Regions from separate parts of the Homo sapiens genome. Here region 1 is linked to region 2. A link means that fine-mapping ties the variant in region 2 to the expression of a gene that starts in the linked region. Tissue or cell type: whole blood. Region 2 holds a variant in brackets; the other region holds the start of a gene. All regions are shown on one strand. Distances are from middle to middle.

What was found. PIP is the estimated chance that this variant, and not a neighbour inherited with it, causes the effect.
Region 1: TBCA starts here. The variant in region 2 is fine-mapped to the expression of TBCA in whole blood (INTERVAL, PIP above 0.99).

Annotation. Positions count from the first base shown.
Region 1 is chr5:77,770,728-77,780,957 of GRCh38, forward strand. TBCA (tubulin folding cofactor A) reads right to left here and starts at 5,612. Exons shown (of 4, transcript NM_004607.3): 1 at 5,478-5,612. The coding sequence starts at 5,530. RefSeq lists enhancers at 2,421-3,306, 3,307-4,191 and silencers at 5,209-5,378, 5,499-5,758.
Region 2 is chr5:77,676,362-77,686,591 of GRCh38, forward strand. No RefSeq gene overlaps it. Among named protein-coding and RNA genes, the nearest start is that of OTP, 43 kb to the left of the region's middle. The variant C/T (reference allele first, on the strand shown) is at 5,765.

The DNA of each region.
Region 1 (10,230 bases), 94 kb after region 2:
TAAAAAAAAAAGAAAAAAAACAAAGAGCCAGCTACACCCAAACCTGCCAACTAATACCCACTACCAGTGAGTCACATGTGAACAAAGGCTGCTGCTCAAAGAAACTTAGTATAATAACCCACCTAGGGCCAGGCATAGTGGCTCACGCCTATAATTCCAGCACTTTGGGAGGCCACGGCAGGTGGATCACCTGAGGTCAGGAGTTCAAGATCAGCCAGGCAAAACCCTGTCTCTACTAAAAAATACAAAAATTAGCCAGCCATGGTGGCGGACACCTGTAATCCCAGCTACTCAGGAGGCTGAGGCAGGGATGAACCCAGGAGGCAGCAGCTGCAGTGAGCCGAGATCACACCAGTCCACTCCAGCCTGGGTGACACAGCGAGACTCTGACTCTGAAAAAATAAAAATAAAAATAATATAATAACCCATCTAGCCTCTGTTACATACATTTCTCTAGTTTCACAGCAAGAATTAGTCCTCAGGAAAAAAAAAAAAGTATACATGTAACAAAATATCACAGGGTACCCTGTAAATATGTATGTGTCAACTAAAAATAACAACAATACTATTAAAATCTTGTTGCTGGAAGATATTTAAGGAGCCCTCAGAGTCAGAGGCTTAGCACCAATTCAGCCTCATTCTGTCCAACTCTCACCTTCTAAGCCATTCCTAGTATCTAGACTCTTTCTTTATTCCTAGTAATCTAACCTCTCTCTCTTGAAACTCACTTCCCAGAAATCAGATGCTTTGCCATTTACTGTACAAGGTAACAAAGTTTCTCTAGGAACAAGACACTCACCGTAAACCTCCGGCCTATTTTCCCAGGGCCTAAAAATACTGGCCCTGAAACTTGTTTCTACTTTATAATGTGGGCTGCTATCCATTAGGTCAACTCTGCCATTTTGCCAACATGCTGAAATGGCCGTCTTGCACGCATGGCTGGATCTCCTACACGCCAAATACCATCATCTACTTATTGCCTGTTTCCATATTCCCCTAACATTCAACCTGCCTGTCCACATTTCTTCCTCAGACCCACTATCAGGAACTTCTGAGTCACCTGAAGTGTTCCACCAGGTCTAATCAGAAACTAAATTAATCCACCCTTTCTAGTATAGCCTACCCAAACTGAACTCTAGGACAAATACCTAGAATATAATTTCTAGTTGCTCTCAATTTCTAGAGAGAAAATTGAAGGATTTGGGGCATGAATAATGACTTTAAACCTCTTCTTCCAAATAAAGGTTGTGACTTCCGAAGATAAATGAGGCTATGGAAAATGAACGTCTAACCAGAAAAAGAGTGTCAAGAACAGATTTAAAATAGTGTCGAGGATAGGTTTTTAAACCATTGATTAAAAAAAAAAAAAGAAAAGAATAGAATCCCTTTCACAAAAGCAAGAACATGTCTGAATCATGAATTAAGGTATCTTTGAAACTAAATTTGGAGAGAGGAGGAAAAAAGCATATCTTTTAGACCCTTTTTATCATGAAAAATGTTCAACTTATGTACAGAAAAATATAATGAAGCCCCATGATCATTCAGCCCCAACAATTAGTAATATGTTACCATTGCTGCCTCATCTATTTTTTACTTTGCTGAGGTAAAATATAGATTTTTAAAAATAGGTTGCAGGGTTTAAAACCTAGATGACGGGTCGACAGGTGCAGCATATCACCATGGCACATGTGTACCTATATAACAAAACTGCACGTTCAGCACATGTATCCCAGAACTTAAAGTAAAATAAAAATAAATAATAATAAAATAAAAATAGGATACTAAGGTAGAAGATGGAAAGAGTCATAGCAAAATAATTTTCAGGTGAAAAATAACAAGAGACAATAGGGGACAATATTTATGGAGTTAGATGGTGATATACCAAGGCAAAATGTGAGTAACAAGCAGCTAAAACAGAAAGTTTAGGGGTTTTTCTTTAATTGCATTTTAATACATAAGTGGGAAGCTATACCCCAAAATGTCAACAGAAAAGTCATTTTAAAATGTATGGGAGACACTTCCATTAATTTATAAGCAATTTGAGATAATAGTAAACTATCACCAAGTTTCATAAAATGATAAATTTATTTCTAAGCAGTTTACATAAGCATTGAAAACTTCTGAAAAGTCAAAAACTTAGTTTATAATAATCTCAATGAGTATTTTCTCTAGAATATGTATTGTCAGCATATAACTACTTGAACTAAGTAATTTTATAAACTAGTAGAGATCACTGGAATGAGAAATGTCAAGGTCATATAAGTAAATGAATGGGAAACTACCATTAGAAGTCATTTCTCATGACTTTCATTCTACAGCACTCTGCAACACACCCTGATAGTTCTGCCAAATATACTGACTAAAATGACATAACCCAAGCAAGTCTGGTAAAAGTGAACCAGTCTGGTAAAAGTCTGGTAAAAAGAACTCTGAGCTGAGGGACAGGATGGATTATTTATATTTTCAAATATACATCTCAATTCCCTTCCTATTACCAATTTTAAAAATACTCTTTACGGGAGCACTGTAGCTTAAAGGAGAAAGTTGTAGATTTGAAACCTTGGTCCTTTTCCTTGCATTGCCACTAACTAGTAGTGTGACTTTAGACAAGTTTTTTTTTTCTTTTTTTAACTTCATTAAACCTCAGTTTCTCATATGTAAAATGAGAATCCAAACAGTATTATTAACATTTACTACCCACTTGCTATTTGCCACATACTGTATTAAACAGCATAGCAGGCAGTTCTTGCAACAACTGCTTGAGTTGGGTGCTTGCTCTATTTTACAAATAAGGTAAAAGAGGCACAGCACAATGTAATATATTCCACAACATAGAATAAAGGGCAGAATCAAGATCTGAACCCAAGCAGTCTCACTTCACAAATGGCTGTGCATTTAACTCCTACTCACATGGTCTCCTTATTGCCTTGGCAATAAAGCTTCCCGGGAAGTGGGATGCTGTGCTAAAACTCAGAAGCATTATCTTAAAAAGTGAATTTATTCTCCCTTTTGCCTGGTCCTTCCTCTGGTGGAAATATCAATAAACAAAGGAAAGGTGGGCGAACAGGAAGAAGCCAGTTGGTTTCTTTAGTAGACATTGCTACAACAAAATAACTTGCTTCTTCAGAAGGCTGTTTATCTTTTCTCTTGTAATACTTCATCAAAAAGTTTGCTCTTCTTGGGTCTGAACAATAAAGTTCTAATGAACACTGAAGGGTCTACCAGCACTCAGGAATGCAAACTAAAAACAAAATTCTAAGCTCCAAAACCGTCTGAATGGACCCCTCCTCTCAACTAAGGGCATTCTAAAGTAATTCAGGCCATGATGGGAAGAGGGGGTCAGACATGTCTCATTACACATTCCTCCCTTTGGAACTCAGGAACAATTGAGCAGCATTAACATTAAAACAGATCTTAAGGCTTTTTGTAACAATAAGACACCAAATTCCAGCTTTACTCTAGTATGGCATCACAGGACAGATAGCGGGATCTGAAAGAAATAAAAGCATTTTACTCTAAAATATATTTCTTTACATATTTTGAATTGGCCCTGCAAAGATGTCTCTTAAGGGGAAAATCTATATTCTGTAGAGAACCCTCTTCCCTGTCCAGGTCTTTTTCCTGATCCACTAGAAAATTAACTAGGAGTCTGGGACCTTTTTAAGTCTGATAAGAAACATTTACAATCTATTCTCTCTGAAGCCTGCTACCTGGAGGCTTCATCTGCCTAATAAGAACCTTGATCTCCACAACCCCTTTATTTTAACCCAGACACACTCCCTTGTATTGATTCCAGGTCTTAAGATAAACTCTTTCAACGAACTGCCAATTGGAAAACCTCCTATAACTTGGAACTGTCCCCAGCCCGCTTTGGGTTGTCCTGCCTTTCCAGATCAAACCAATGTACATCGTACATGTATTGATTGATGTCTTCTGTCTCCCTAAAATGTATAAAACCAAGCTGTAGCCTGACCACCTCGGGCACATGTCATCAGGACTTCCTGAGGCTGTCACAGGCATATCCTTAACCTTGGCAAAATAAACTTCTAAACTGATTGAGACCTGTCTCAGGTACTTTCTTGGTTTACAGGAATTTAAGCAAATTACAGGACTGCACTACCCATGAGTTTGTGAAAGGAAAAATAAATCTCAGGACCCCAAAATCACTAAGCCAAAAAGAAAAGTCAAGCTGGGAATTGCATCGAGCAAACCTGCCTCTCATTTTATTCCTGAATAAGATAGCTACAAAGATTAAAAAAAAAAAAAAAAAAGCTACATACCTCCCTGACAATTTGCCCCCAAGGAAATTCCTTGTGGGCCTCAAGACCTTCACTCTAAAACAGTTCTGTTGTATTTCACCCTGGCAATGTAAATTGATAGCTTATCTTCACAGGTATGGGACAAAGAACAGAACTCAAAGTCACCCCTCTACCCACCTGAGACAAATGCGTAACTGACTGCTTCCTCTGCCCTACTGTGTATGTAAAATCGCAGATTCATTTAGCCGACTAAGGCATAAGTGACTATTCTTCTATCCCTCTCTCACATGTAAATTGTGTATTAAGTGAAAAGCTGATCAAAGACTCAAAAGAATGCAACCATTTGTCTCTTATCTATGACCTGGATGCCCCCCAACCTTCTAGTTGTCCTGCCTTTCTGGAGGGAACCAAGGTACACCTTACCCATTGACTAATATCTGAGGTCTCCCTAAAACGTATTACACCAAGCTGTGCCCCAACCGCCTTGGGCACATGTCATCAGGACCTCCTGAGGCTGTGTCATGGGCACGTCCTTGGCAAAATAAACATTCCAAATTAAGACCTGTCTCAGATACTTCTGGTTCACAAGTTATTTAAACAGCATCTCACAGCCTCTGGGGCGAGCTTCGGGGAATCTGACTGGAGAAAGTGAGGCCACATAAGTTTGCTGAGTGTGCTAGAAGTTCAGGCCCAGTTCTCAAAGCCTGCCAGTCACGCCAGCCATGTTAGGTCACACGGCTCCACTACGGTCTTTTTTGACGAGGCCCAGATCCTCCGCATCCCCCTAAACTTCAGAGCCTGCTTTCAAGCCCATTTGAGAGCACAGCTGGGATCCCGCTTCCCCGGGCCAAGTTCAGCAAGGAGAGGCCGGCGCGCGCACACAGGAGGCACGGGATCAGGGCCCGGCCCGCCCTCGCAGGCCGCGGCCCACCACCTTCCCACCGCGGGCGCCGAGAAACCGGGCCACCGCCGACTCTTCCGGCAAATCAGAGCGGCCAGTGAGCGGAGAGGGACGGGAAGCGGCGTGCGAGGCTGGCGGGCTCGGGCGTCAGCGCGCCCCGCTGGGTCCCTGCCAGTCCCAGCCAACTGCGGAGCCCCGGGTGCGGCCTGGAGTTCGGAGCCCGCCTCGGGCCTCCTCGGGCCTGCGCTCCGCTCAGCCTCGCGGGCCGCCATGAGGTGACGAAGAGGAGGTGCAGGGCGCCGCTCCCGGCTCCTTACCGCTTCACCACGCCGGTCTTGATCTTGATCTGTCTCACGCGAGGATCGGCCATGGTCCCTCGAGCGCCGCGAGAAGGAGGGGCGGAGAGCCGGGGTAACCGTGGAGGGCGACGCGCAGAGGCTGCGGCTATTTAGGCGTGGTCGCCGGCGCGCATGCGCAGGCTGCGCGGCCCGTCGTCCCCGCCACGCCCCGCGGGGCGGGTTTACTAGAGGGCGGTACCCTGCTCCCGCCAGTCCCTTTACCCCTCGTGCGCCCCTTTACCCGTAGTGAAACGTGCCCTCCTCCTCTCTCTCGGACTGCCCCTCTTTTTACTTCAGGCGCAAGTTACACTATCCCGGTCTCCACAGCCTGGGCCTTTGGGGAAACTAACGTCTCTCTGGGACGTTGCTTTGCGGGATTATCTGCTTAATGGACGGAGTGACCTAAAAAATGTATTAAGGGTATTTTCGATGTCGTTATCTGGTGTCAGATGAGGCAGAGTGATGCATGTGTAGTGAAACAAACTGCCATCATGCACGCAGTCAAGAAAATCCTTGCCCTTTACCTCAAATCCCTGCAAGAAGGTTTGTAGATAACGTGCCTTTCAAAGGAAATGACTAACAGAACTTCTTCAGATGATCACTTATAGTGTATCCTAAATATTTAACTTACAAGAATGTGTGTCGCACACAAAACCTTGGGCTTCCTAATCAGACAAACCGGCTTACAATCGAGGTTCCACCCTTTAATAGCTAGACTATTAGCTAGACAACACTGATACGTATGCTGTTTAGCCTTGCAGCTGATCAGTCTGCAAAATGGAAATAATAATGTCCATTTTACAGATTAGGTATAAGGGTTAAAACACCTAGCTCATTGTCTGACGCATGGTAGATGCTGAACAACATTTGACTATTTTATATGTTCAAAAATATATTTGTTGCATAAAATGAGGCACATCTACAGTGAGCTCTAGCAGTCCCTTCCTAAGAGAATCTCCTGAGGAATACAGGGCAGAATCGCCCTTTTTAAAATTGCTTTTCTTTTTCTTTTTCTTTTTTTTTTTTTTGAGACAGATTCTCACTCTGTCGTGCAGTGGCTTGATCTCGGCTCACTGCAACCTCCGCCTCCTGGGTTCAAGTGATTCTCCTGCCTCAGCCCCTAGAGTAGCTGGAATTATAGGCGCGTTCCACTATGCCTGGCTAATTTTTTTTTTTTTTTTTTTTTGTATTTTTAGTAGAAACGGGGTTTCACCACGTTGGCCAGGCTGGCTAGAACTCCTGACCTCAGGTGAGGCCCACCTCACCCTCCAAAAGTGCTGGGATTACAGTCATGAGCCACCGAGCCCACCCCCTTTTTAAAATTTCTTGGTACCATCCTTCAAAGACACCCATATGACTGTCTTTTTCCTTCCCTAGCCTGACTTACTCATTCTCACTTTCATGACTGGTCCTGGAATCCCCTTCTATCCCGCCAGCCCAAGGCCGTTACTTTAAATCCAGGATCAAAACTGAGCAAAGTCTACTATGACTCACCCCACCTGTTCAATCTTCCCTGGATGCTTTGGAGTCACCCAGTAGTCATCATTATTTTTAGTATATTTCTTTTTCAAATTATTGTTTGGTCCTTCGTAAGGGTTTTGTTCAGCTTCGTAGTTATAAATCCTGGTTCATAAACATGTTTAGAGGCAAGATTCTTGTCTTCCATAAATCTTCCTTCCCCAACCTCCTCCACCTGTGTTTTGTGCACAATGGGCACAGAATTCAATAAATATTTTTATTCTGCTGGCTGGTATACTGATGTGCAATTCCAAGTCACACAGCAGCGCTGTGAAATACTGGAGGGAGGGGTAGATAAAACACAACAGCAAACTTACCAAAGCAAAATGACATGCACACACACACACAAACACACACACACACACACACAAACAGCAGCTACAAGCCACAAACCAAAAGATGGTGCAGCTAGGGCTTTTGCTACCGTTAAGGTCTTTCCTTTGATTAGGTAGCAAAAACCATGTAACTCGTCATATTTTCCTTTTTTGCTTTGGTTTCAAGAAGCTCAGAGCTCAGTTTTGTGCTAATTTGCAGGAGTTTCTCTCAAACTAGGCTTCCCAATACAAATACCTGCTATTTCCCCCCAATCCCCAATTCTGCCTCCCTCCTTTTGCCCCCTTTCTCTTTGTTTTAATTGATTTGTATCTGTGCCTTTACTATAAATCAATAATCAGTAAATGTCAGCAGCCAAAAGACCTCTGCTGCTACTGCCATTGTGTGTTTCCAGGCCCATTCCCAGGCTCTGGAGGACACTTTGTGAGTTTATCTGTGTCTGTGTATACAGTTGACCCTTGAACAACAGTTTCGAATTGTGCAGGTGTGTCAGAGGTGTTTGAACCAAAGCAACTCCATCTTGAATAGGGTCTGGGTAATATGAGGCTGAGATCTGCTGGGCTCTCTTCCCAGGAGGTTAGGCATTCTTAATCACAGGATAAGATGGGAGGTTGGCAGGACTGGTTTCACTAGACACAGACCACAAAGACCCTGCTGATAAAACAGGATGCTGTAAAGAAGCTGGCCAAACCCCACCGAAACCAAGATGGTGACAAAAGTGTTTTCTGGTTGTCCTCAATGTTCATTATATGCTAATTATAATGTATTAGCATAATAAAATAAACTCCCACCAGCACCCTGACTATTTACAAATACCATGGCAATACCTGGAAGTTACCCTATATGGTCTAAAAAGGAAAGGAACCCTCAGTCCCAGGAACTCCCCACCCTTTCCTGGAAAGCTCATGAATAATCCACCCCTTGTTTAGCATATAATCAAGAAACAACCATAAGTATACTCAGTCAAGCAGCCCATGCCACTGCTGTATTCAGTAGCCGTTCTTTCATTTTTTTACTTTCTTAATAAACTTCATTTCACTTTATAGACTTGCCCCAAATTCTTTCTTGCACGAGATACAAGAACTTGCTCCTGGGGTCTGGATGGGGACTGCTTTCTGGCAACAGGCCCACTTAGAAGAAGAGTTTTTTCAATAAATACAGTCAGCCCTCCATATTGGCAGGTTTTGCATCCACAACCAGACAAGGATGGAAAATACAGTATTCCCAGGATGCAGAAACCCACATATAGGCAAGGCCCACTTTTCTGTGGGTTTCTTAGGGCCAACTAGGGAACTTCTGTGTGCACTCAAGCATGAGTTTTGATATCCTTAGCAGTTCTGTAACCAATACCCCACAGATATCAGGGGACAACCATTCTATATTGTATTCTTGAGTCTATGGGTTAAGATTAAGGAGTTTGGCGCCGCCTTTAAGGATAAGAATCAGAAAGACTTGTTTCAGGTTTCAGGAGTTTACAATAGTGGTTAAGAATGTGAACCCTGGGACTAGACTGCCTGGGGTCAATCCTAGCTCTGCATCTTACTAACTGTGTAATATTGGACAAGTTACTTAACCTCTCTATGCCCCAGTTTCTTTCTTCTGTAAAAGGTAGATGATGAAAAACTTAAATGAGCTAATAATTGTAAAGTGCTTAGGATAGTGCTGGTACTTATTAAGCCCCACATGAATGTAAACCAAAATAAAATTGTGAACCCCCACCCCACCCCGGGCTATCTGAATGGACCCCTCCTCTCAGCCAAGGGCATTCCAAAGTTAACCTGAAAAACTAGGTCAGCCCACGAAGGGAAGGGGGAATCAGACATGCCTCTTTATACCCTCCTCTCTTTTGTAATTCAAGCACAGCTGACCATTAACAAGTGACCTTAAGACCAATAGAACAGACTCTGTAAGTCTGATAAGAAATATTTGCAATCAGGCTGGGTGCAGTGGATCACACCTGTAATCCCAGCACTTTGGGAGGCTGAGGCAGGAGGATCACGAGGTCAGGAGATCGAGACCAGCCTGACCAACATGGTGAAACCCTGTCTCTGCTAAAAATACAAAATTAGCCAGGCATGGTGGCGCATGCCTGTAATCCCAGCTACTCGGGAGGCTGAGGCAGGAGAATCACTTGAACCCAGGAGGCAGAGGTTGTGGTGGGCTGAGATTGTGCCATTGCACTCCAGCCTGGGAAACAGGAGCAAAACTCAGTCTCAAAAAAAAAAAAGAAAAAAAGAAATATTTGCAATCTGTTCTCTCTGAAGCCTGCTACATGGAGGCCTCATCTGAAAGATAAAACCTTGGTGTCCACAACCCCTTATCATAACCCAGACCTTCCTTTCTATTGATTCCAGGTCTCTAGATAATAACTCTTTCAACCAATTGCCAATCAGAAAATCTTTGAATCTGCCTATGTCCTGGATGACCCCCCTTTTCCAGTTGTCCCACCTTTCTAGACTGAACCAATGTACATCTTACATGTATTGATTGATGTCTTATGTCTCCCTAGAATGGGTAAAACCAAGCAGTACCTTGGGCCACCGAGGTACCTTGGGCCAGTACCTGGCCACCTTGGGCACATGTTCTCAGGATCTCCTGGGCCTATGTCACAGCCCATTGGTCACTCATATTTGGGTCAGAATAAATCTCTTGAAGTATTTCACAGAGTTTAACTCTTTTTGTCAACATAATATTTAACAAACATAAAGTTTGTTAAATAAATAAGTCATTTTGGAAAGAGGTCCCAAATAAGAAACTAACAGCATGGTAGAATTCACATTCATATGAATATAAAAATGTACATATTATCGTTAATGATATCATGCTGAATTCATGTCTGATTCATAATTTTGTATGAAAAGGACTCATGTTTGACTTATTC
Region 2 (10,230 bases):
ACCTAAGGTTGTAAGAATCAGCAAACTGATTCTAAATGTTTTTTTTTTGTTTGTTTTTTTGAGATGAAGTTTCACTCTTGTTGTCCAGGCTGGAGTGCAATGTCATGATCTCGGCTCACTGCAACCTCTACCTCCTGGGTTCAAGTGATTCTCCTGCTTCAGCCTCCCGAGTAGTTGGGATTACAGGCACCTGCCGCCATGCCCAGCTAATTTTTGTATTTTTAGTAGAGATAGGGTTTCACCACGTTGGCCAGGTCTGGAACTCCTGACTTCAGGTGATCCACTGGCCTCGGCCTCTCAAAGTGCTGGGATTACAGGCGTGAGCCACTGTACCTGGCCTGATGCTAAAGTTTATATAGAGGACCGAAAGACCCAGAATAACTAACACCATGTTGAAGGGGAAGGACAAAGGTAGAAGACTGATACTACCCAATTCAAGAGTTACTACAAAGCTGCAGTAATCAAGACTGTGGTACTGGCAAAAGAACAGACAAGTGGACCAATAGAACAAAACAGAAGCCCAGAAATAGATACACATAAATATAGTCAAATGATCTTGACAAAGAAGTAAAGGTAAGAACATGGAGCAAACATGGTCTTTTCCACAGATGGTGCTGGAACAACTAAATGTCCAAATGCAAAAAAAAAAAAAAAAAAATCTAGAGTTATACCCTTCACAAAAGACTTTACACCCTTCACAAGAATGAACTCAAAATGTATCATAGACCTAAGTGTAAATACAAAACTTTAAAACTTCTAGAAGTTAACAAAGGAGAAAACCTAGATGACCTTGGGTTTGGTGTTGATTTTTTAGATACAAGAACAAAGTCATGATCCATGAAATAAATAATTGATAAACTATACTTCATTGAAATTAAAAACTTCTGCTCTGCAAACACAATGTCAAGATAATGAGAAGAGAGGCCACAGACTGGGAAAAAATATTTGCAAAAGACATATTTGATAAAGGACTGTTATCCAAAATATACAATGAACTCTTAAAACTCAACAATAAGAAAATAAATGACCCAATTTTAAGGACAAGCCACAGACTGGGAAAAAAATATTTGCAAAAGGCACATCTCACAAAGGGCTGTTAGCCAAAATATATGATGAACTATTAAAACTCAAAAATAAGAAAACAAATAACCCAATTTTAAGATGGGCTAAAAGACTTTAACAACCACTTCACCGAAGAAGATATACAGATGGGAAATAATCATATGAAACGATGCTCCACATCATTTGTCATCAGGGAAATGCAAACTAGAACAACTATGAGCTACAACTACACATCTATTAGAATGGTCAAAATCTAGAACACTGACAATACCAAATGCTGGCATAGATGTGGAACAAAAATTCTCATTTGTTGCTGGTGGAATGCAAAATGTGACAGTCTCTTTCGAAGACAGTTTGGAGGTTCTTACAAAACTAAACATACTCTTAACCATATGATCCAGCAATTACACCCCTTGGTATTTACCTAAAGGAGTTGAAAACTTATGTCCAAACAAAAACCTGCACATAAATGTTTTTAGTTGCTTTATTCATAATTGCCAAAACTTGGAAGCAACCAATATGTCTTTCAGTAGGTGAATGGATAAATAAACTATAATACAACCAGACAGTAAATCTTCTTTTCATTCTTTTTTCTTTCTCTTTTTTTTTTTTTTTTTTTGAGACAGAGTCTTGCTCTGTCACCCAGACTAGAGTGCAGTGGCACAGTCTCAGCTCAAGACAGCCTCAGTCTCCTGGGTTCAAGTGATCCTTCTAACTCAGCCTCCCAAGTAGCTAGGACTACAGGTGTGCACCACCACGCCCGGCTAATCTTTGTATTTTTTTGTAGAGATGGGTTTTCATATTGCCCAGGCTGGTCTTGAAATCTTGGGCTCCAGCAATCTGCCCACCTCAGCCTCCCAAAGTGCTGGGACTACAGGCATGAGCCACCATGCCTGGCCAGACAGTGAATTTCCTTCAGTGCTATGAAAAGACATGGAGGAAACTTAAAAGTATATTACTAAGTGAAAGAAGTGAATCTGAAAAGGCTACATACTATATGATTCCAATTATATGGCATTCTGAAAAATGCAAAATACAAAGACAATAAAAAGATCAGTGATTGCCAGGGGTTGCAGAGGGGATGGAGGAAGGATGAATAGCTGAAGCACAGAGGATTTTTAGGGCAGTGAAAATGCTCTGTACAATACTATAGTGAAGGATATATAACATTGTCCAAACACATAGAATGTACAACACCAAAAGTGAACCTTAATGTAAACTATGAAATTTTTTTTTTTTGAGATGGAGTCTCATTCTGTAAACCAGGCTGGAGTGCAGTGGCACGATCTTGGCTCACCGCAACCTCCGCCTCACGGGTTCAAGCTATTCTCCTACCTCAGCCCCTTGAGTAGTTCAGATTACAGGTGCGCACACCATGCCTGGCTGAGTTTTGTACTTTTAGTAGAGACAGGGTTTCACCATGTTGTCCAGGCTGGTCTCAAACTCCTGACCTCAAGTGATCTGCCCACCTCAGCCTCCCAAAGTGCTGGGATTACAGGCATAAGCCACTGCGCCCAGCTTAAACTATGAATTTTTGATGATCATGATGTGCCAAGGTAGGTTCATCAGTTGTAACAAATGTACCACTCTGGTGGAATGCTGATGATGGGGAGGTTGTGCATGTGTGGGGTCAGAAAGTGTATGGGAAATCTCTGTACCTTCCACTCAATTTTGCTGTGAACCTAAAACTCCTCTAAAAAAAAATCTTTAAAAAAGGGTGGGGGAGTCTTGGCAGTTCAAAAGAGGGTAACACCTTACTATTATTGGAACATGAAATATGCATTTATAACTGTGTAGTAACTTTTACGTCTCATTTCTACATAAGTATTGCACAAAGCACCTATCTTGTAACTTTCTTTGATTACAAATGAAGTAAGTGTTCCTTTGAAGTATTTATTGATCATTTTCTGGCTCTTTTGTGAAATGCCACCTTGTGTTCTTTGCCTATTTTTCTATTAAGCTATTTCCTTTTGGTTTTTAGTGATTTATGCATATATTCTAGATACCAATCTTTTGTTAGATGTATTATAAATATATTTTTCCAGTTTGTGACTAGTCTTTCCCTTCTGTAGTTTTTTTCATGTCAAATTGATCAATTTTTTCTTTGAGTATTTCACTTTTTTGTGTCTTAAGAAATTCTTACTTGAAAAACTTGAAAAAATATTTTCTTTATTTTATTTAAACACTTTACTTTTTTTTTTTTTTTTTTTTAGACAGAGTCTCTCTCTGTCACCCAGGCTGGAGTGCAGTGGCGCGATCTCAGGTCACTGTAACCTCTGCCTCCCAGGTTCAAGTGATTCTCCTGCCTCAGCCTCCTGAGTAGGATTACAGGCACCCACAACCACACCCGGCTAATTTTTGTATTTTTAGTAGAGACAGGGTTTCACTATGTTGGCCAGGCTGGTCTCGAACTTCTGACCTCTGGTGATCTGCCTGCCTTGGCCTCCCAAAATGCTGGGATTACAGGCATGAGCCACTGCACCCAGCCCTAAACACTTTACTCTTCATCCTACTTTGAAACAACTCATGGTAGAGTTAGGCAATCATGGACGTTAGCTTGCTCAATGGCAATGTCATAAAACAGGAATTTCTCTCATATTACACAGACACAGCTGACTTATTAGACATTTCATTGTGCCATCTCTGTGACCTTTGGCAAGCCTCAGTTTCCATAATAACACCACCTGCTTTTTTCAAAGTATCACAGGCTGATTTGAAGAAGTGGAAAATACCATTTGTGTTCCAAACTGCACAATGAATGTGAAAGAGGTTTGCAAACTATAAAGCACTATACAAAATAAGGTTTCCATTTTATAATGTTACTTTATTCTTTTCTGCTATAATTAAAAGTATAACTTTCTTTTCCATAGGTCATATGATAAGAAAAGATTGAGCAATGAATATTCAGTAATGTTTATTTTTTATTTATTTTTTATTTTTTTAGACAGAGTCTAGCTCTGTTGCCCAGGCTGGAGTGCAGTGGCTCACTCGGCTCACTGCAAGCTCTGCCTCCCGGGTTCAAGTCCTGCCTCAGTCTCCCAAGTAGCTAGAACTACAGGCGCCCGCCACCATGCCCGGCTAATTTTTTTTTTTTCGTATTTTTTGTATTTTTAGTAGAGAGGGTTTCACCGTGTTAGCAAGGATGGTCTCGATCTCCTGACCTCATGATCCGCCTGCCTCGGCCTCCCCAAAGTGCTGGGATTACAGGTGTAAGCCACTGCGCCCTGCCAGGAATGGTTTTAAAAATGAATGAATTTAACAGTGCAGATAAAGTTTAAATTCCTTCTGTTCCCTTCTACAGTACTGGTTCCTTTCTCTGTTCTCCTGAGGCAGCCAGTGTCACAAATATTTGTTTACACTCTCCTTACAGTTTTCTTAAAAAAGTATGCATCAACAATGTTTAGAGTGTTACAAACCTATAGAAAAGTAGAGAGAAGAGTATGATGAACTCATATCTACCCATGAATGAGCTTCAGTGGTCAACACATTGTCAAGTTTGTTTCATCTATGCCTCCCCACTCCATATCCCACACCCTGTTGGGTTATTTGAAAGAAAAACTCAGCCATGTTGTAATGTAGTTAATACACACTTCGACAGAATCTCTAAAAAATATGGCACACTTACCCTGTTTATTAGTCAGTTTTCACGCTGCTGATAAAGACATACCCGAGACTGGGAAGAAAAAGAGGTTTAATTGGACTTACAGTTTCACATGGCTGAGGAGGCCTCAGAATCATGGTGGGAGGCGAAAGCCACTTCTTATCTGGCAGCGGCAAGAGAAAATGAGGAAGACGCAAAAGCGGAAACCCCTGATAAACCCATCAGATCTCGTGAGACTTATTCACTACCACGAGAACAATATGGGGGAAACTGCCCCCATGATTCAAATTATCTCCCACCTGGTCCCTCCCACAACAACACGTGGGAATTATGGGAGCTACAATTCAAATTGAGATTTGGGTGGGGACACAGCCAAACCATATCACCCCTTGACCTTTCTTTTCCCCCCACAAACATAATCACAATAATATTACCACACCTAATAAATTAACATTAATTCTTTAACATCATCGATTAATTAGTAACTGTTCAAATTTCTCCAATTGTTTCACACATTTTTTTTAAAAAGTATTTGAACAAGTTGAGAGTCCAAACAAGGTCCACATATTTATTTACTTGAATTTATTGAAAAAACTATGTCTTTTTTTCTGGAGAATTTCCACATCCTGGTGGTGTCATTTAATATATTCCTCTGCCCTCAGCATTTCCTATACACTGGTAGTTAGAGCCAGAGGTTTGACCAGTTTCAGGTTTGACACTTAGGCAAAAGTACTTCAGAGACAGTACTGTGTTCTTTGTATTGCAGCTCATTAGGAGTCCTGTAGTGTCTGGCTGTCACTGTTTTAGTGACGTTAAATCAATCAGAGGGTTTAGCTCTTATCAGCCTAAACCGTTCATATCGTTTGTCATTAGTATTTCACCTAATGGTTTTAGGGAATGCACATGTTTAAGGCATTATTTTTATTTTTTTGAAACAAAGTCTCACTCTGTTACCCAGGCTGGAGTGCAGTGGCGCCATCTCAGCTCACAGCAACCTCTTCCTCTCGGGTCCTGGTTCAATCAATTCTCCTGCCTCAGCCTCCCAAGTAGCTGGGAGTACAGATGCCTGCCACCACACCTGGCTAATTTTTGTATTTTTAG[C/T]AGAGACGAGGTTTCACCATGTTAGTCAGGCTGGTCTTGAACTCCTGGCCTCAAGTGATCTGCCTGCTTTGGCCTCCCAAAATGTTGGGATTACAGGCGTGAGCCACTGCGCCCAGCAAGGCATTATATTCTTATTGCTTATTTCTACTTCTACCACGGTGTGCTGAAGTGTCTGTTACCCCAAATTTCCCATGTTTATATAAGAATTTTTAAAATTCCTTGTCAAATTGACTGGAAGGTAGGGTAATCTCATTGTTCAAATATGCATTTCTTTACTTATTTATGAGGTTGACCATAAACATTCATATATTTGTTGGCAATTTGTACTCCTTTTACATATTGACTATTCATGTTATTTGCTGTTTTTTTTTCCTAATGGGATGTTTGCCTTTTCTTACACACCTGTAACATTATTTTTGTTTGTTTTTTAAAGAGATTTTTAAATAAGTAGACTTATTTCTTTCTTTCTTTTTTCTTTTTTTTTAAGATGAGATCTTGCTCTGTCGCCCAGGCTGGAGTGCAGTGACGTGATCTCGGCTCACTGCAACCTCCGCCTCCTGGGTTCAAGTGATTCTCCTGCCTCAGCCTCCTGAGTAGCTGGGACTACAGGCACGTGCCACCACGTCCAGCTAATTTTTTGTATTCTTAGTAGAGACGGGGGTTTCACCATCTTGGCCAGGCTGGTCTCAAACTCCTGACTTCGTGATCCACACCCCCTTGGCCTCCCAAAGTGCTGGGATTACAGGCATGAGCCACCGCGCCTGGCCAAGTAGACTAATTTCTAAAACTGCCCTTAATTTTTCTCTCCGTTTCTTCACTGAGTCCATCCTCTGGCAGATACCAGATGCTTTCAGAATGTTCAGCTTGCTCCCATGATAATTAGTTCAAAATTCCATTTCAAGCGCTCCCCTCGCTTCCTCTGGGTAGATACCCATGTCCTGGGATACTTATCTCACCAGAGCTGGTTGCCAGTGGTGGAAGCAGGAGCAGTTGTGCCTGCTTTCTTGATCTAGGTTGGGTGGTTAGAGCTTTTTAAATTTATTAAAAACATTCATCCTCTGATGGCTTTTCTTTTTTTCTTTTTTTCTTTTTCTTTTGGCTTTGCTTTACCAGCAGGTTTTATTTTGGAAATTAAGTAACTTGCTGAATCATGAAGTCATACAGCTAAGCAGATTTGAATTCAAGTTGTTTGGCTCCAGAATCAGGGCTCTTAATCACTGTATACTCAACTGTTCTCCATGATGGCTCAGGCACATGCAGACATGTAAAGCACTATGTAATACCAGCCGATGTGCTTTTACTTGTATCCAATTGGCCTTACTGTGCTACTCCCTTCAGACTACAAAACAGAAACCATAAGGTTCCCTAAGATTTGTGTGTGCTGGCAGACGAAAGGGAATGAGGACAGGTGCGGACAGTGTGCGTGGGTGATGTTTAGTGAGGCGCTGGAGGACAAAAATGGAAGACTCATGTCTTTTGAGCTTATTAAAAAAGGAAAAAGATTTGAGAAGAATTCAATAAGTGAGTTTTTCCTAAGAATTCCCAATAAAAAGAACTAGATATAACTTTGGCTACAGAGAAGGGGATGGCCGAATTAAAAGTAACTGATCTATCTTCATATATATAGTATGTATATACACATATATATATTTTAATAGAGATGGGATCTCACTATGTTGCCCAGGCTGGCCTCAAACTCCTAGGCTGAAGCAATCTTCCTGCCTTGGCCTCCCAAAGTGCTGGGTTTATGGGTGTGAGGCACCATGCCTGTTTCTAATATATTAAAAATATTAATTACCTATTAAAATCCTTAATCTTTTATCCTAGTCTGATGTTTGTTATGTAATTTAGTTAGTTCTATTTTGAAAAAGACATTCACAATTTTTTGTTCAACAAAATGTAGTCTTTATATTTTTAGAAATTGATTTTCCATTTGCAGATTAAATCTTAAGTAAAATATTCTTGGTTTTTTACGTTTTATTTCTTACATTTAACTCTGTACTATTACAGAAGCCTTTCTCTGCTCTCATTTTTGCCCCCTATGACTCAGTTTCTAAGAGCCACAGGATCTTTAAACAATGCTGTAATTAAACCATTTCACTCTCTTGCTTAAAATCTGTGGCTTCTCATTAGAATAGAACCTTAATTTCTTTCCTTGGTTTACAAAGTCCTAAAAATTCATGTACTACTTTCCCCATCATTCACTTAACTCTAGCCTCACTGGTCTCCTTTCTTTGAACTCACCCAGCCTTTTCTTGTCTTAGGCGTCAGAGTAGCTTTTCTTTTGCTTGCAGTCCACTTCTCTTTGTTGAGGTTCTGAATCAGAGCCTAGCTTAAACATCTCTTCAGAAAGGCCTTCCCTCATCATCTGGTTGTTCTCTATCACACCAGCTTGTTTTCATTTTATGCACAGAACATGCCTCCGATATCTTCTTGCTTATTTATTATCAACCTCTGTGAGTTGTATGCTCCTTAAAAGCAAAGATCTGTGTCTGTCTTGCTCACTACTGCATCCCAGGACCAGAATAATGCCTAGCTAATAAAAGGTTTGAGAAATATTTGTTGCATAAATTCTTTAATCTATTTAAGCTTTATTTTATTGTGTGAGGTGAGACAAATCTATTTTTATTTTTCTCAAGAACTGACTTTTCTATTTATTGGAATGGGAATTATCCATCCTTTTACCACGAACTTAAGATGCCACCTCTATCAGATATTTATGTATTGATATATATTCGGGTATGGTGTGGGTTTTCTACTTTATTCTGACAGTTCAATCTCATGCCAGTTTCACTGTTTTACATGCAGGAGTTTTAAATTTCAAATACCCAACTGCAATGCCTCCTACATTTATCCTCTTTCTCCCTCACCAATTCTCCATTTTTAAGATTTTCTTGGCCGGGCACAGTGGCTCACACCTGTAATCCCAGCACTTTGGGAGGCCGAGGAGGGCGGATCACGAGGTCAGGAGTTCAAGACCAGTCTGGCCAACATGGCGAAACCCCGTCTCTACTAAAAATACAAAAATTAGCTGGGCGTGGTGGTGCATGCCGGTAATCCTAGCTACTCGGGGAGGCTGAGGCAGGAGAACTGCTTGAACCAGGACCCGGGAGGCGGAGGTTGCAGTGAGCCGAGATCGCACCATTGCACTCCAGCCTGGGCTACAGAGGGAGACTCTGTCTCAATTCTTGAACAGTCTCACCACTTATTTTTCTCTTTATAAGTTTAATACTTCTTGTATTACAGATATATGTTACTTTGTGGAGAATTGCCATCTTTAAAATATTCTCACCAACAGTGTGTTTCATTTTCCATTTCCCTATACCCTCATTGTATATCAACTTAAAAATTGTTAGTCTATTAGATTCACCAGTGTTTTCTTCTACATTTTCTTTTCCATTTTATACTGAAATTTTTGATTCATTTGAGATGCATTTTGGTGTGAGAGGTGAAATAGAGATCCAGCTCCATATTTTTCCCCCAAGGATCTGAAATAGCCTTTATCATATACTAAATTTATATTCATATAAATTTGGGTTTGCTTCTGGACTCTTATTGTTTGATCTTCTCTTCTTTTACCATACATTGAATTATTGTAACTTAACAAAGTTTTACTAGTGAGCAGAGGTAGTTCCCTCTTACCACTATTCTTTTTCAGATCCCATCCCCGGCAGTCATTCTTGCCTGTTAAAAAAATTTTAATTGGATTTTAGAACCATTTCCTCAAATTCTCCCCTCTGCTAAAGCCCTTCTGTGCTTTATTTCATTGAATTTACAGATTAACATAGAGAGAATTCACATTTTCACAATATTAACTCTCCATATACAGTACAAGTCATTCTTTTTAAATGTCTTTTTGACTCTCACTGGAAATCCTTTTTTCAATTATATTTGGCTACTGCTGGCATACAGAAAAGCTTTTGGGTTCTATGTATTTGTTTTCTAGGACTGCTGTAACAAGGTACCACGAACTATTGTCTCACATTTCTGGAGGCTAGAAGCCAAAATCAAGGTGTCTGCAAGGACATGCCCTCGAAGGCTCTTGGGGGAGAATCTGTTCCCTGCCTTTCTCTTAGCTTCTGGTGTCATGTTGGTGGTACTTGGCTTGAGGCTGCATAACTCTGTTGTCATATAGCCTTCTCACTATGTCTTCACAGTGTCTTCTTACTCATAACATCAGTCATACTGGGTTAAAGGCCCACCCTATTCTAGTAAGTTAAGACCTTATCTTAACTATTTCTGCAAGGACCTGTTTCCAAATAGGGTTCCATCCTGAGGCATTGGGGGTTACGGCTTCAACATATCTTTTTGGGTAACATAATTCAACCCATAACAGTTCTACATATCATGTAAATACTCATTTTAATTTCCTCATTGCTTCTGATTATTTCACAGATGACTCTCTGTTTTCCTGGGGCACAGCTTATCTGCATATAATGAAAATGATGTCTCTTTTCCAATATTTA